Homo sapiens: one gene and its partner. The protein of the gene in region 2 purifies or fractionates together with the protein of the main gene of each other region. This does not show direct contact. Each region holds a gene or a part of one and is shown on either strand. Other genes may lie near its edges.

What was found. Proteins that work in one complex are often made in the same cells at the same time.
Region 1: the proteins of HNF1A (region 2) and SNX14 purify together in Homo sapiens (affinity purification with mass spectrometry, with the first as the bait; one study listed by BioGRID). This does not show direct contact.

Annotation. Positions count from the first base shown.
Region 1 is NC_000006.12:85,583,859-85,587,358, forward strand, and holds part of SNX14 (sorting nexin-14), read right to left. Parts: intron 1-3,500. UniProt on the Homo sapiens protein: Plays a role in maintaining normal neuronal excitability and synaptic transmission. May be involved in several stages of intracellular trafficking. Required for autophagosome clearance, possibly by mediating the fusion of lysosomes with autophagosomes.
Region 2 is NC_000012.12:120,985,043-120,988,542, forward strand, and holds part of HNF1A (hepatocyte nuclear factor 1-alpha), read left to right. Parts: intron 1-3,500. UniProt on the Homo sapiens protein: Transcriptional activator that regulates the tissue specific expression of multiple genes, especially in pancreatic islet cells and in liver. Binds to the inverted palindrome 5'-GTTAATNATTAAC-3'.

The DNA.
Region 1 (3,500 bases), on a different chromosome or scaffold from region 2:
GCTACCATTGACTTTCTTAACAGAATTAGAAAAAAAAATACTTTAAATTTCATATGGAAACAAAAAAGAGCCTATATAGCCAGACAATCCTAAGCTAAAAGAACACAGTTGGAGGCATCAAACTGCCTGGCTTCAAACTATACTACAAGGCTACAGTAACCAAAACAGCAAGGTACTGGTACCAAAACAGATATATAGACCAATGGAACAGAACAGAAGCCTCAGAAATAACACCACACATCTACAACCATCTGATCTTTGACAAACCTGACAAAAACAAGCAATGAAGAAAGGATTCCCTATTTAATAAATGGTGTTGGGAAAACTGGCTAGCCATATGCAGAAAACTGAAACTGGACCCCCTCCTTACACCTTATACAAAAATCAAATAAAGATGGATTAAACACTTAAACGTAAGACCCAAAACCATAAAAACCCTAGAATAAAACCTAGGCAATACCATTTAGGACACAGGCATGGGCAAAGACTTCACGACTAAAACACCAAAAGCAATGGCAACAAAGCCAAAATTGACAAATGGGATCTAGTTAAACTAAAGAGCTTCTGCACAGCAAAAGAAACTATCATCAGAGTGAACAGGCAACCTACAGCATGGGAGAAAATTTCTGCAATCTATCCATCTGAGAAAGGGCTAATATCCAGAATCTACAAGGAAGTTAAACAAATTTACAAGAAAAAAACAAACAACCCCATCAAAAAGTGGGCGAAGGATACAAACAGATCCTTCTCAAAAGAAGACATTTATGCAGCCAACAAACATATGAAAAAAAGCTCATCATCACGGGTCATTAGAGAAATGCAAATCAAAACCACAATGAGATACCATTTCATGCTAGTTAGAATGGTGATCATTAAAAAGTCAGGAAACAACAGGTGCTGGAGAGGATGTGGAGAAACAGGAACACTTTTACACTGTTGGTGGGAGTGTAAATTAGTTCCACCATTGTGGAAGACAGTGTGGTGATTCCTTAAGGATCTAGAACCAGAAATACCATTTGACCCAGCAATCCCATTACTGGGTATATACCCAAAGAATTATAAATCATTCTGCTATAAAGACACATGCACACGTTTGTGTATTGCAGCACTATACACAATAGCAGAGACTTGGAACCAACCGAAATGCCCATCAGTGATAGACTGGAAATACTATCACCATGAAATACTAGGCAGCCATAAAAAAGGATGAGTTCATGTCCTTTTCAGGAACATGGATGAAGCTGGAAACCATCATTTTCAGCAAACTAACACAGGAACAGAAAACCAAACACTGCATGTTCTTACTCATAAGTGGGAGTTGAACAATGAGAACACATAGACACAGGGGAGGGGAATATCACAAACCAGGACCTGCTGGGGAGTGGGGGACTGGGGGAGGGATAGCATTAGGAGAAATACCTAATGTAGATGATGGATTGAGGGTGCAGCAAACCACCATGGCACATGTATACCTATGTAACAAACCCACATGTTCTGCACATGTATCCCAGAACTTAAAGTATAATTAAAAAAAAACAAACAACAACAACAACAAAAACACTGAAAACCAATAAGCTAAGCATTCAGAAACTTGGGGGGAAAAACAATAAATCCAAACACATGAAAAGGAAGGAAATAGTCAAGAGCAGAAATCAACAAAATAGACAACAATGACAAATTAACAAAATATAAGCTAGTTCTTTGAAAAAATTAATAAAACAACCAAACTTCTAACTGGATACTAATGGAGGTTAGTAGGGTACCAATTATTACTCTAAAAATTGATAAAGAGTAAGCATTTATCCTACTTTTCCAATTTGAACTATCTATCAGAATAACTAAATAGACCTAACGGATGGAGTAAAGCAATTCTACAAAAAAGAATCAAACTTAAAAATACAGAAGAAATGAGAGAATTCGAGAATAACCATGTTGTAACCCATAATTAAGTAACTGATTCAAGAAATAAATAAATGGTAAAACCAAAGAGTAAGTTTGTTGGACACAGTATCGGTGGACATTAACTGAACCCATTAAAAGTGAAGCAATCCTATCTTACATATCCACTGATGTGATGCAATGGAATGTACATGGCATCACTAAAGTCTTCTTGCACCACTCCCCGCAACAGGAAAAAAAAAAAAAAAAAACTAAATCTAATTGAGCCTATAGATCAAACACTGTGACTACCAAAAATACAAATGTGAGGATTAAAATACAAGACACTACAAGGAAACCACAACAAAATCCAGAATGTGAACAAATGATCCAGTTTCCTCAACAAGTCAATGGCAAGGAGAAAAAAATGGTGAGGAGGGATCTTCCAGATCAGCAGTTGACAAATGATGGCCTGTGGACAAAAGTATACCTGTTTTTGTATGCCCCTCATACTAAGAAAGGTTTTACATTTTTAAAGGGTTTTTTAGAAAGAAGAATAAGCAACAGAGACTTAGCATGGTATACAAAGCCTAAAATATTTACTACCTAACACTTTACAGAAAAAAATGTGTCAACCCTTATTCTAGATTACAAGACATTTAGAAAAGCTTGAGATGTAGGAACCAAATAGGAGTACAACTTGTTTAGATACCAATTAGAACAACTGCACTATATATTTTTACCCAATAGGGAAAATTTTTATTATGGAGTAGTTATTAGATGATATTAACCAATTATTGTTAATTTTGTAATATTATAGTTTTGTATGGAAGTGATTTTTTTTTTATTTCTATCTTTTATAGAGACATGGTCTTGCACTGTCACCCAGGCTGGAGTGTCGGGGCACAATCATATTTCACTGTAGCCTTGAACTCTTGGCTCCAGGAATCCTCCCACCTCAGCCTCCCGAGTTAGCTAGGACCATAGGCTCGCTACTTTTTTTTCTTTTTTTGGTACAGACAGGGTCTTTCTGGCCAGGTGCATAATTTCAGCAATTTGGGAGGCCGAGGTGGGCAGATCACTTGAGGTCAGGAGTTTGAGACCAGCCTGGCCAACATGGCAAAACCCCATGTTGGGAGTCTCCACTAAAAACACAAAAATTAGCCAGGCATGATGGTGGATGCCTGTAATCCCAGCTACCTGGGAGGATGAGGCACAAGAATTCCTTGAACTGAAGAAGTGGAGATTGCAATGAGCCAAGATCACGCCACTGCACTCCAGCCTAGGTGACAAAGTGAGACTCCATCTCAAAAAAAAGAAAGAGAGAGAGACAGTGTTTTTCTATGTTGCCCAGGTTCATCTCCAACTCCTGGCCTCAAGTGATCCTCCCACCTCCACCTCCCAGAGAGCAAGAATTACAGGCATGGGCCACCTCACCCACTCTATAAGACATTTCTTAAAAAGATAAGGCAAAAAAAAAAATATGGCAAAATATGGATAGTTGTTAAAGTTGAGTAATGGGTGCTTGCAAGTTTTTTACACTCTCTTATGTATGCTTGGAAATTTTCAATATCAAAAGTTAATTAAAAAGACAAACCTCTAGCAAGACAGATCAAGGATAC
Region 2 (3,500 bases):
TCAAGAGATCCTCTTGTCTCAGCCTTCTAAGTAGCTGGGACTACAGGCTTGTGCCACCACACTTAGCTAATTTTTCTATTTTTTGTAGAAACAGGGTCCCACTATGTTGTCCAGGCTGGTCTCAAACTCCTGGGCCCAAGGAATCCTCCCACCTTAGCCTCCTGAGGAGCTGGGACTACAGGTGTGCACCACCATGCCTGGCTAATTTATTTTTTTTTTTATAGAGACAGAGTCTCACTATGTTGTCCAGGCTGGTCTTGAACTGCAGGGCTCAAGTGATCCTCCCACCTCGGCCTTTCAAAGAGCTGGGATTACCACCATGAGCCACCATACCCAGTTTACAATTCAGTTTTAAATATTATATATGCCAAGGTGGGAGGATCGCTTGAGCCCAGGAGTTTGAGACCAGCCTGGCCAACATAGCAAGACCCTGTCTCTATGAAAAAAAAAAAATAGAAAAAAGAAGAAAAAGTACAAAAATTAGCTGGGCATGTTGGCATGTGCCTGTGGTCCCAAGTACTTGGGAGTCCGAGGTGGGAGAACCAATTGAGCCCAGGAGTTTGAGGCTACAGTGAGCTATGATCACGCCACTGTGCTCCAGCCTGGGAGACAGAGCAAGTAGCCTCTAAAAAGAAAAATAAATAAATAAAAATAAATATTGGCTGGGCACGGTGGCTCACACCTGTAATCCCAGCACTTTGGGAGGCCAAGGCAGATGGATCACCTGAAGTCGGGAGTTTGAGACCAGCCTGGCCAACATGGTGAAACCCTGTCTCTACTAAAAATATAAAAATTAGCTGGGTGTGGTAGCGCACACCTGTAATCCCAGCTACTCGGGAGGCTGAGGCAGGAGAATCGCTTGAACCTGGGAATCAGAGGTTGCAGTGAGCTGAGCTCGCGCCACTGCACTCCAGCCTGGCCACAGAGCAAGGCTTTGTCTCAAAAAAAAAAACTAAATAAAAATAAATATCATGTATGCATATATAGTATATATTATGTAATTTACAAAGTACACAAGGACAACAGAGAAAACTGTCCTTCTCACTCCCATCCCCAGCACCCCGTTCTCCTCTGGAAGGAACCAGAGTCCCCAGTTCCTTGCGTGCCCTCCGGTATTTTACACGTGCACAAATATGTAGAAATCCTCTTTTACCTCACTTCAAATTATTCATAAGTAGCAGCACAGCAGACACACCAGATAAACTCTGCTCCACCTGGGCACACAGAGCTTCCTCAGCGGGGTTTTTTCAGTGGTTGCATTGAACAGATGCACCTCCATTTAGTTAATCAGTATCCTTTTGCTGGGCTCCTTGGTGGCTTCCAATCTTTTGCTATGGCAAGCAACGTGGCAAGGAATTGCCTTCTACTTGTGCCATTTGTCACCTGTGCCAATATTAAAAGCCACAAATTCTAGAAGCGAATTGCTCAGCGAGGCAGGGGAAAGCACAGGCTTTGGAATCACGCAGACCCAAGTTCAAATCCCAGTCTGCCTGTTTCAGTGCTGCTGTATTGAGCTGTATTTATCTGTAACTTTTTGTTTGTTTGTTTGTTTTTTGAGACGGAGTCTCACTCTGTTGCCCAGGCTGGAATGCAGTGGCGCGATCTCGGCTCACTGCAACCTCTGCCTCCCGGGTTCAAGCAATCCTCCTGCCTCAGCCTCCCGAGTAGCCGGGATTACAGGCACCTGCCACAATATCTGACTTATTTTTTATTTTTATTATTTTTTTCGTAGAGATGGTTTTCTCCATGTTGGCCAGGCTGGTCTTGAACTCCTAACCTCAAAAGACCCGCCCACCTTGGCCTCCCAAAGTGCTGGGATTACAGGTGTGAGTCACTGCACCCAGCCTATCTGTGACATATTGGTAATATAAGTTCAGGAGAGGGAGAGAGAAAGAGGCAGGGATTGAGACAGAGCAGGAGAGGAGGAGAGAAAATTTATATGGCTCAGGCAGTCTGATCCCTTCTGTTCCCCCACAGGGAGACCCACAGCAGAGACATGACTCACAGGTGGCATCAGGTCCCTTTGAGTCTCTCTGGTGGGAGAATCTCAACCCACAGAGTAGGATTCCAGTGTTCACATGCATTTTTGGTACTATGAGGCCTCTGAATGTCAACCCTGTCACCTGAGACTCTGTTGAAAAACCAGCCGCGGCCGGGCGCGGTGGCTCACGCCAGTAATCCCAGCACTTTGGGAGGCCGAGGCAGGCAGATCACAAGATCAGGAGATCGAGACCATCCTGGCTAACACGGTGAAACCCCGTCTCTACTAAAAATACAAAAAAATTAGCCGGGCGTGGTGGCGGGTGCCTGTAGGCCCAGCTACTTGGGAGGCTGAGGCAGGAGAACGGCATGAACCCAGGAGGTGGAACTTGCAGTGAGCCGAGATCGCGCCACTGCACTCGAGCCTGGGTGACAGAGTGAGACTCCATCTCAAAAAAAAAAAAAAAAAAGAAAAAGAAAAGAAAAACCAGCCTCCTGTTCTGGTGCTGCAGGGAAACAGGCCTGGCCACAGCCAAGGGTGCAGATTTTCAGGAAGCATTTTTAAAAATATATATATATATATATACACATATATATATATACAGAGAGAGAGAAGCCACTGAGGCCCACAGAATTTGCATCATTTTATTCCTTGTCCAAGGTCACAGGACAAGCAGAGTCCCACCCACCTGAAAGGATTCAGTTCTAAGACAGCCTTTAGGGCAAAAAGTCACAAAGTTGATCTATCTATCTATCTATCTATCTATCTATCTATCTATCTATCTATCTACGTGTTTGCACCCTAATCACTGGCAGTAAATGCACTTTTTTTCTTTTCTTTTCTTTTTTTTGAGACAGGGTCTTGTTCTGTCACCCAGGCTGGAGTAGGTGTAAAATTGGAGAATCCATATTTCTTTCCTTGTTTTCAGATTTAATGCTTTCCTTTTTCCAGCAGGTCTCCTTCGTCCATCCATCCATCATCCATCTACCCACCCACCCACCAATCCATCCATCCATTCATCCAACCATCCATCCATCCATCATCCATCCACCCACCCACCCACCAATCCATCCATCCATTCATCCAACCATCCATCCATCCATCATCCATCCACCCACCCACCCACCAATCCATCCATCCATTCATCCAACCATCCATCCATCCATCATCCATCTACCCACCCACCCACCAATCCATCCATCCATTCATCCAACCATCCATCCATCCATCATCCATCCACCCACCCACCCACCAATCCATCCATCCATTCATCCAACCATCCATCCATCCATCATCCATCCACCCATCTATCTGTCCATCCACTCTACCCTACCATCCATCCACCAGTCCATCCATCTATCCACCAATTCATCCATCCATCCACCCATTCGCCCATCCATCCATCCACCCACCCATCCATCCATCCGTCCATCCACCCATTCATCCATTCATCCATTCACCCATCCATCCATCCACATATCTTCATCTGTGTTGTGTGTCTGTGTATCCATGTTTCTAA